Regions from separate parts of the Homo sapiens genome. Here regions 1 and 3 are each linked to region 2. The links come from fine-mapping of genetic effects on gene expression. A gene starts in region 2. Each other region holds a variant in brackets. All regions are shown on one strand. Distances are between the middles of the regions. Region 1 has its middle 21 kb from the start of SLC7A11. Region 2 holds the start of SLC7A11 (solute carrier family 7 member 11). Region 3 overlaps SLC7A11 (solute carrier family 7 member 11).

What was found.
Region 1: its variant is fine-mapped to the expression of SLC7A11 in whole blood (TOPMed, PIP above 0.99).
Region 3: its variant is fine-mapped to the expression of SLC7A11 in monocytes (Quach 2016, PIP 0.95). The same link has a PIP of 0.9 or more in monocytes after LPS and monocytes after Pam3CSK4.

The regions. Positions count from the first base shown.
Region 1 is chr4:138,262,057-138,264,828 of GRCh38, reverse strand. No RefSeq gene overlaps it. Among named protein-coding and RNA genes, the nearest start is that of SLC7A11, 21 kb to the right of the region's middle. The variant A/G (reference allele first, on the strand shown) is at 1,319.
Region 2 is chr4:138,240,666-138,243,437 of GRCh38, reverse strand. It overlaps SLC7A11 (solute carrier family 7 member 11), which reads left to right and starts at 1,089. Exons shown (of 12, transcript NM_014331.4): 1 at 1,089-1,645. The coding sequence starts at 1,369. RefSeq lists enhancers at 835-1,074, 544-1,743.
Region 3 is chr4:138,170,011-138,172,782 of GRCh38, reverse strand. It overlaps SLC7A11 (solute carrier family 7 member 11), which reads left to right. Exons shown (of 12, transcript NM_014331.4): 12 at 766-2,772. The coding sequence ends at 827. SLC7A11-AS1 (SLC7A11 antisense RNA 1) reads right to left here. Exons shown (of 7, transcript NR_038380.1): 5 at 1,077-1,250. Among named protein-coding and RNA genes, the nearest start is that of LINC00616, 41 kb to the right of the region's middle. The variant T/C (reference allele first, on the strand shown) is at 1,218.

The sequences.
Region 1 (2,772 bases), 21 kb before region 2:
TTTTAGGAGGATATATACTTCAGAACACAGCATACTCTCGATTAAAATGACCATAAAACACTCAGCCATGCACATCTATTTTTTTAGTGGCTCCTTTCTGTTGCTCCCTCCCTACCTATATATCTTATTTTCTCTCTTCCTTCCTTCTCTGCCTCCTTACCTTCTGATCTGGTCAGGCTTTGTGTCCTCACCCAAATCTCATCTTGAATTTTAATCCCTAGGTGTTGAGGGAGAGACCTGGTGGGGGGAGATCAGATCATGGGGCAGTTTCCCCCGTGCTGTTCTGATGGTTTTATGAGTGTTTGGCAGTTCCTCTCTTGTTTGCTTCTTCTTCTCCTGCCACCCTGTGAAGAGGTACCTTCTGCCATGATTGTAAGTCTCCTGAGGCCTTCCCAGTCATGTGGAACTGTAAGTCAATTAAATCTCTTTTCTTTATAAATTACCCCCTCTCAGGCAGTTCTTTATAGCAGTGTGAGATCGGGCTAATACACCTTCCTTCTTTCCTTTTCTTAACTGGAGGACATTACCTTAGGTGAAACAAATCGGAAACAGAAAGTCAAATACTGCATGTTCTTACATATAAGTGGGGGCTAAATAATGTGTACACATGGACATGCAGTGTGAAATAACAGACATTGGAGCTTGGAAGGGCAGGGAAGGGAGAGGGGGTGAGGGTAAGAAGGTACTCTAAGGATGCAATGTACACTATTCAGGTGACAGTCAACACTAAAAGCCCAGACTTCAACACTGTATAATATATCCATGTAACAAAACTGTACTTGTACCCCTTACATTTATAACTCTTTTAAAAATGGAAACCAGTGTTGTCTCAGTTTCCTAGGAAAAGATATGTGATACTAATAGGTACAAGATGAACCCTTATTCCATTGTTGAATATGAAGACTTCAAAGCAAAAACTGGTCCAATTTACTACTATTCTTGTCAAGAAATAGAAGTCACAAAAATTTGGTCAAATATCTAGCTATGATAAATGCACTGAATGTTGCAGCTGGGCATTCAAATGAAATGGCTGCACTCTCACTTGACACTAGTGGAAGGAAAAGGCCTCACTGCCAAATTCAAAACTTGCTTTTAACATGGAGGTTTGAAAAATTAAATTATTGCCTGTCGTGCTGTATTTGAGGGTGTAATCACCAAGCATTGCATAACTACCTGCTGTACTTCAAAACTGTACCCATGTGCTCTCTGAGTCAGCTTTACTTATCATCTGCCCTCTCCCTCTCAGCCTTCTCATGAACAACTGTCATCTTTTTTTCTTTTCATTTCTTTTTCGAAAAAAAATGTTAGTTCCATATTC[A/G]TTGACACTTTCCTACCACATGATATATGTTGTTGGCTAGCTCCAGCCTGGCTTTCCTTTTTGGTTCTTTCACAAGCTGTTGTACATTCAATCATTGTAGGGCTGCATAGGACAGACGGCTAAGTTTCAGTTTGTTCATTTATTTGGCAGAATGATCAGTTCAAAGTTTTAGAAAAAGACAGAACAAATGCACCATATTGATGTATTTTGTCATTTGAGTGGCTGCTTTAGAGGTTCTCATCTTCACCAATCACATTCATTTTTCCCATTTCTTTCAACTCAGCCCCACTCCTCCTCACCCTGACTCCCCGCACAGACATGCACAATTGATTTGACTTTCAGGGGTCATAATTATGCTTGCAGTTTTGAGGTTTCTGCTAATGGATTTTACCACTTAGCCAAAGTCTTAACATTCTTTTTCCTTCATCCTCACGTTGCATTACACCATATATTTAGATTTTTACTACAATTTCGGAAACTGATGGATACACACACATACATGCACATACAAACTGAATAAAAGTTGCACTGTGCTATTTGCTGGAGAGAATTCCATTATGACGGTTTCAACGAAGCACTGTTACTGGAAGTCACTAGTCAGGACTTTTAAACCATTTATTCTAGCATATTTTACCTTTCAATATTATTCCTTGTAGACTTTGTTCTGTTTGCTTGCTCTTTTTTTAATGTTTACTTTTCTTTTACGACTCTGCTTTCAAATTGTAAGAAAGAAGAAAAAAATAACCTGTTAATTTAAGAACTGAGAAGGAATTCCTCTTAGGTGAAATGAATATGTTTCTTGAGACCAGCACCATGGTAGACCATCCGTTTGGTTGAACAATGAATGTCTCTCAGCATAGGAATAGGCTGGGTAGGAAGTGAGGCAAAGGGAAACATATTTCTATGAATGGTCATGTGAGAAGCATTTTGAGCTTCTCTAGGCAGCCTGAGAACAAGAAAGAAGATGAAAGTAGGTGGGGAACGACAGATCTAGAAACTTAGGCAATGGTTGACATTCTATATTAAAGAAGGGTGAAGTCTCCAACGTCAGAAATGGCTAAGAGGCTTTAAAATCAGATAACTAATTCTTAATTCCAAGTTGTTCCCTATGTCACTATAATATGGAAACGGCCCTTCTCCAATTTGCTTTGCACCAAAACTTCACACTAGTCTGCTAGTCATAGATAAATATACAACTCCGAGTGGTTGCTATTTGGGGGTGTGAAATGATTGGGGGCGGTGTACAGTGGGTGAAGAGGTGAGGAAAATCAAAGGCATAAGCAAGAAGCAAGGGCAGGGTAGTGATATAAACTTCAGCAAAAGTAACATTTCAGTGCCAGTGGTGGCTGGCAGAAATTTAAGTGCCATCACTTCTCACTCTAAATCTGTAGCAAATATGAGAAGTGAGATTTGTCAGCTTTATTTAAAACGTCTCCAATACTGTGGAGTGCTTA
Region 2 (2,772 bases):
GCCAAAAATGATATCTAGGATTTCTTTTCTTTTCATATTTGTTTTTTCTTGACACTTGGTTGAGAAAGTTAGAAGGGTTTAAAAATGTTTTGCCTTTTTGACTATTGCAAAGTAAATATTTTAATTTAGCTTACATTTTTAATGCATTTTAAATTTATAATAATAACAATAGTTTATATAATGTGGAAAAAAGTCATACATAATATCATTACTTTCTATAACTACCATTCTGTTTTCCTTTACAGGCTTTTGCTATATACATATTTTTATGTAATTGTAATTGTGTAATTTTGAACTTAGAAATTTTTTTTGGTAATTCAAAGGAACAACATGACAATGAAGGATATGTATCTTTTACATAGTTCAAAAAAATCACCTAGTGCTAATGAGAATCAGAAAATGACTATTTTCTGGAGTCATGGTGAATTTTGTATTAGTCACACTCGGATGGTGATTTAAAATACTGGTTTATTATGAGTAGTAAGAAATAATTTTATCTTTTAATGTTGAGGAAGGCTTATAGTTGTGTGTATGTGACAGAAGTATAAAGTGTAGAATCTTTAATTTTGTAAATATTGGATTTGACTGTATTGCCTTATAAAAAACTCAAAATAAAAAAATAAAAAGCATTACACAAATTATGAAATTCAAACTGTGTTGTTATAAACAATGTAGCTTTAGGATACATTCTACTCACAAAACAGTCGCATGTAAAATGTTTTTATACACGCATTAAAGAAAAAGAAACTCCTTAAAATGAAGTAACTATTTCCTGTTTCATTTTGTTTGAACAGCTTTTGTTGCTCACTACGAGTTGCTTTAAATCTCTGGGAAGGTCTGTTCCGAATTTACTACTTCTGGATTGGCTAAAATCTCTTTAAAGTGTGTGCTTTGTTCTCTAAAAAGCTTAGGTCAGTTGAGCAACAAGCTCCTCCTGTTTTTTTCTTTTTTTAAAAAAAAGAGCTGAGTAATGCTGGAGGCTTCTCATGTGGCTGATGCAAACCTGGAGAATTTGCATCATCATTTAGCTGTAGTAAGTTGGTGTGACAGGCAGGCGCTTAAATACAAGCCCATGAGGAAGCTGAGCTGGTTTGTAATGATAGGGCGGCAGCAGCAGCAGCAGCAGCAGTGGTGGAACGAGGAGGTGGAGAATTGAGAGCACGATGCATACACAGGTGTTTCTGAGTAGTAATTAGATCGCTGTGAAGGAAAAAGCACACCTTTGAGTTTTCACCTGTGAACACTATAGCGCTGAGAGAGACAGTCTGAAAGCAGAGGAAGACATCGATCAGTAACACCAAGAGACACCAAAGTTGAAAGTTTTGTTTTCTTTCCCTCTGTTTTATTTTTCCCCCGTGTGTCCCTACTATGGTCAGAAAGCCTGTTGTGTCCACCATCTCCAAAGGAGGTTACCTGCAGGGAAATGTTAACGGGAGGCTGCCTTCCCTGGGCAACAAGGAGCCACCTGGGCAGGAGAAAGTGCAGCTGAAGAGGAAAGTCACTTTACTGAGGGGAGTCTCCATTATCATTGGCACCATCATTGGAGCAGGAATCTTCATCTCTCCTAAGGGCGTGCTCCAGAACACGGGCAGCGTGGGCATGTCTCTGACCATCTGGACGGTGTGTGGGGTCCTGTCACTATTTGGTGAGTGCGACTTTTTCTCTCGTGGGGGCGTGGCTGTGGGGCTGGAAAGCTTGCTTTCTGGGAAAGCAAATGGTAGTTTTTGAGGAGTGAATGGATGGCAAAGGCCACACCAAATTTTTAAAATTTTTGTTCGGGTACGTGAACTACCCAGATGCAGCATCCGCTGTTGGTGTGATCTGGAACACCCTCAAATTGCTTCCTACAGGCTGTACTTTCTTTTCCTGACTAAGACAGGCTATCTTCTGACTTTTCTCTGTGGTGATGAGAGCAAAGGCTAACTTTCATGACCCAGTAAAAAACATGCACACTTTCTGTGCCGGGCAGTTGTACACTTAGCTTGGGCATTCTGGCAGCTGGCATGCTGAATGAGACACCTGTGAAGTGGAACCTGGCATGGGCTATTTAGACATAGAACGGAGTGTTCAGCAGAAGTCTTACTGACTTTTTATTAGCCAAACAAATGGGTGGCAGTCTTTATAAAAATATTTTTTAAGTTCATGTGCTTGTCACCTCTTAATATCCTTTCAAAAGTCCTTGACATGGGAGAGATGTATGATGGCGCATAACTCAATCCCTATCATAATGGGGTATATTGCAATGGCCTGAGCATATTTCAAATTACTTTTCAACCTTTCATCTCTTCTCAATACCCATACACTTTTGCAATATAAGTTTTAAAACTTCAGTTGGGCGTTAGTTTTCTGTACTTGCCCAGATCTGTTTTTTTCATTATATTTCACTTGTTCTCCAGGGACACAGAGAATTTGTCCACCTGTTCACTAAATTAATCTGAAGGGAACTGGCAGAAGTATAATTATGAATTTTTCTTCAAAGTTTATGTCTCTTCTATTGATCTGAGAATTAATAGTAAAGAGGTAAATAAATGCCCCCTTATGGAGTAGGCAAATTACTAGAGAGCTACCTGAGTTTGTTGTAAAGATGATAAAAACTGGTGAACTGTCAAACATTAAATTTGATTTATGCTATGAGGATTTATTTACTCTTCTTGGGAAAGATTCTGTACTTTAAAGTTGCTCTTTGTCTTAACTCTGGGACTAACACTAACTAACAAGTACTAACGCTAACTCTAGGACTAATTAACAAGTACTAACTCCTGTTCCCATGTG
Region 3 (2,772 bases), 71 kb after region 2:
CTAAGATAAAATGACCTTAGAAATCATCTAGCTCAATGGTTCTGAAGGAAAAAAGGTAGACTTCCTTCTGAACACTGGAGCCAGCCTTTCTTGGGATGCCCTCAGTTCCTACATTTTTGTGTCTATCAGAATTACAGACTGCTAGGCCCCATCTTCAGTTTCTAATTGAGTAGGTCTAGGATCGAGCTTGAAAAGATGCATTTCTAGTATGGTAGTTGATGCTAATTTTGTTGGTCCAGGGACCGCACTTTGAGAATCACTGATTTAGTCTCTCATTCTACTGATTAGGCAAATTAGGCCCTAGGAGATAAGACAACATTCTCAATAACATGTTACAAGTTAGAGAATGAAAATTACATTCTGATTCTCCTCCAGATTCTTCTGAGGAACTGATTGTAATCTCATAGGTGCAAAAAGAATAAACCAATTTTAAACTGATATAAAGTGTATTTTTAAACATTTATTTATATATTGGTCCTACTGTTTCAAAATATTTTCACCCTTCTGGTCCATGAATAAAAATCCTTATTTGAATGCAAAATATTAATGTATTCTTGCTGAGAAGCCATCATGGGAAGTTACAGAAGTGACAAATAAATTAATTGAGCATGATAGAATTCTAATGAAGTAAATAATTCTTGAAAGTGCTCTATGAAGTAGACAGTTGTGTGTTTTTGGTATTCAACCCAAAATAATTCATATTTTGCTATTTTTAATGCATTTCTGATTTCCATGCATTTTTAATTCATTTTTATTTCTTTGTAGAGAAAATAACCAGAACATTACAAATAATACTGGAAGTTGTACCAGAAGAAGATAAGTTATGAACTAATGGACTTGAGATCTTGGCAATCTGCCCAAGGGGAGACACAAAATAGGGATTTTTACTTCATTTTCTGAAAGTCTAGAGAATTACAACTTTGGTGATAAACAAAAGGAGTCAGTTATTTTTATTCATATATTTTAGCATATTCGAACTAATTTCTAAGAAATTTAGTTATAACTCTATGTAGTTATAGAAAGTGAATATGCAGTTATTCTATGAGTCGCACAATTCTTGAGTCTCTGATACCTACCTATTGGGGTTAGGAGAAAAGACTAGACAATTACTATGTGGTCATTCTCTACAACATATGTTAGCACGGCAAAGAACCTTCAAATTGAAGACTGAGATTTTTCTGTATATATGGGTTTTGTAAAGATGGTTTTACACACTA[T/C]AGATGTCTATACTGTGAAAAGTGTTTTCAATTCTGAAAAAAAGCATACATCATGATTATGGCAAAGAGGAGAGAAAGAAATTTATTTTACATTGACATTGCATTGCTTCCCCTTAGATACCAATTTAGATAACAAACACTCATGCTTTAATGGATTATACCCAGAGCACTTTGAACAAAGGTCAGTGGGGATTGTTGAATACATTAAAGAAGAGTTTCTAGGGGCTACTGTTTATGAGACACATCCAGGAGTTATGTTTAAGTAAAAATCCTTGAGAATTTATTATGTCAGATGTTTTTTCATTCATTATCAGGAAGTTTTAGTTATCTGTCATTTTTTTTTTTCACATCAGTTTGATCAGGAAAGTGTATAACACATCTTAGAGCAAGAGTTAGTTTGGTATTAAATCCTCATTAGAACAACCACCTGTTTCACTAATAACTTACCCCTGATGAGTCTATCTAAACATATGCATTTTAAGCCTTCAAATTACATTATCAACATGAGAGAAATCACCAACAAAGAAGATGTTCAAAATAATAGTCCCATATCTGTAATCATATCTACATGCAATGTTAGTAATTCTGAAGTTTTTTAAATTTATGGCTATTTTTACACGATGATGAATTTTGACAGTTTGTGCATTTTCTTTATACATTTTATATTCTTCTGTTAAAATATCTCTTCAGATGAAACTGTCCAGATTAATTAGGAAAAGGCATATATTAACATAAAAATTGCAAAAGAAATGTCGCTGTAAATAAGATTTACAACTGATGTTTCTAGAAAATTTCCACTTCTATATCTAGGCTTTGTCAGTAATTTCCACACCTTAATTATCATTCAACTTGCAAAAGAGACAACTGATAAGAAGAAAATTGAAATGAGAATCTGTGGATAAGTGTTTGTGTTCAGAAGATGTTGTTTTGCCAGTATTAGAAAATACTGTGAGCCGGGCATGGTGGCTTACATCTGTAATCCCAGCACTTTGGGAGGCTGAGGGGGTGGATCACCTGAGGTCGGGAGTTCTAGACCAGCCTGACCAACATGGAGAAACCCCATCTCTACTAAAAATACAAAATTAGCTGGGCATGGTGGCACATGCTGGTAATCTCAGCTATTGAGGAGGCTGAGGCAGGAGAATTGCTTGAACCCGGGAGGCGGAGGTTGCAGTGAGCCAAGATTGCACCACTGTACTCCAGCCTGGGTGACAAAGTCAGACTCCATCTCCAAAAAAAAAAGATTATATATATATATATATGTGTGTGTATGTGTGTGTGTGTGTGTGTGTGTATATATATATATATATATATACACACACACACACACACTTTTTATATATATATATATATATATATAGTGGAACTTACAAATGAGAGTAATATAATGATGAAATTTTGAACTGTTATTTATAAACATCTAAGGTAAAATGGTTAGTCATGGCCAGAGTATGTTTCATCCTTTAATTTTTGTCCATTTGAAAATAAGGATTTTTGAAAGAATTATACCAATTAAAATTATTAAAGGCAAACATAGAATTCATAAAAAATTGTC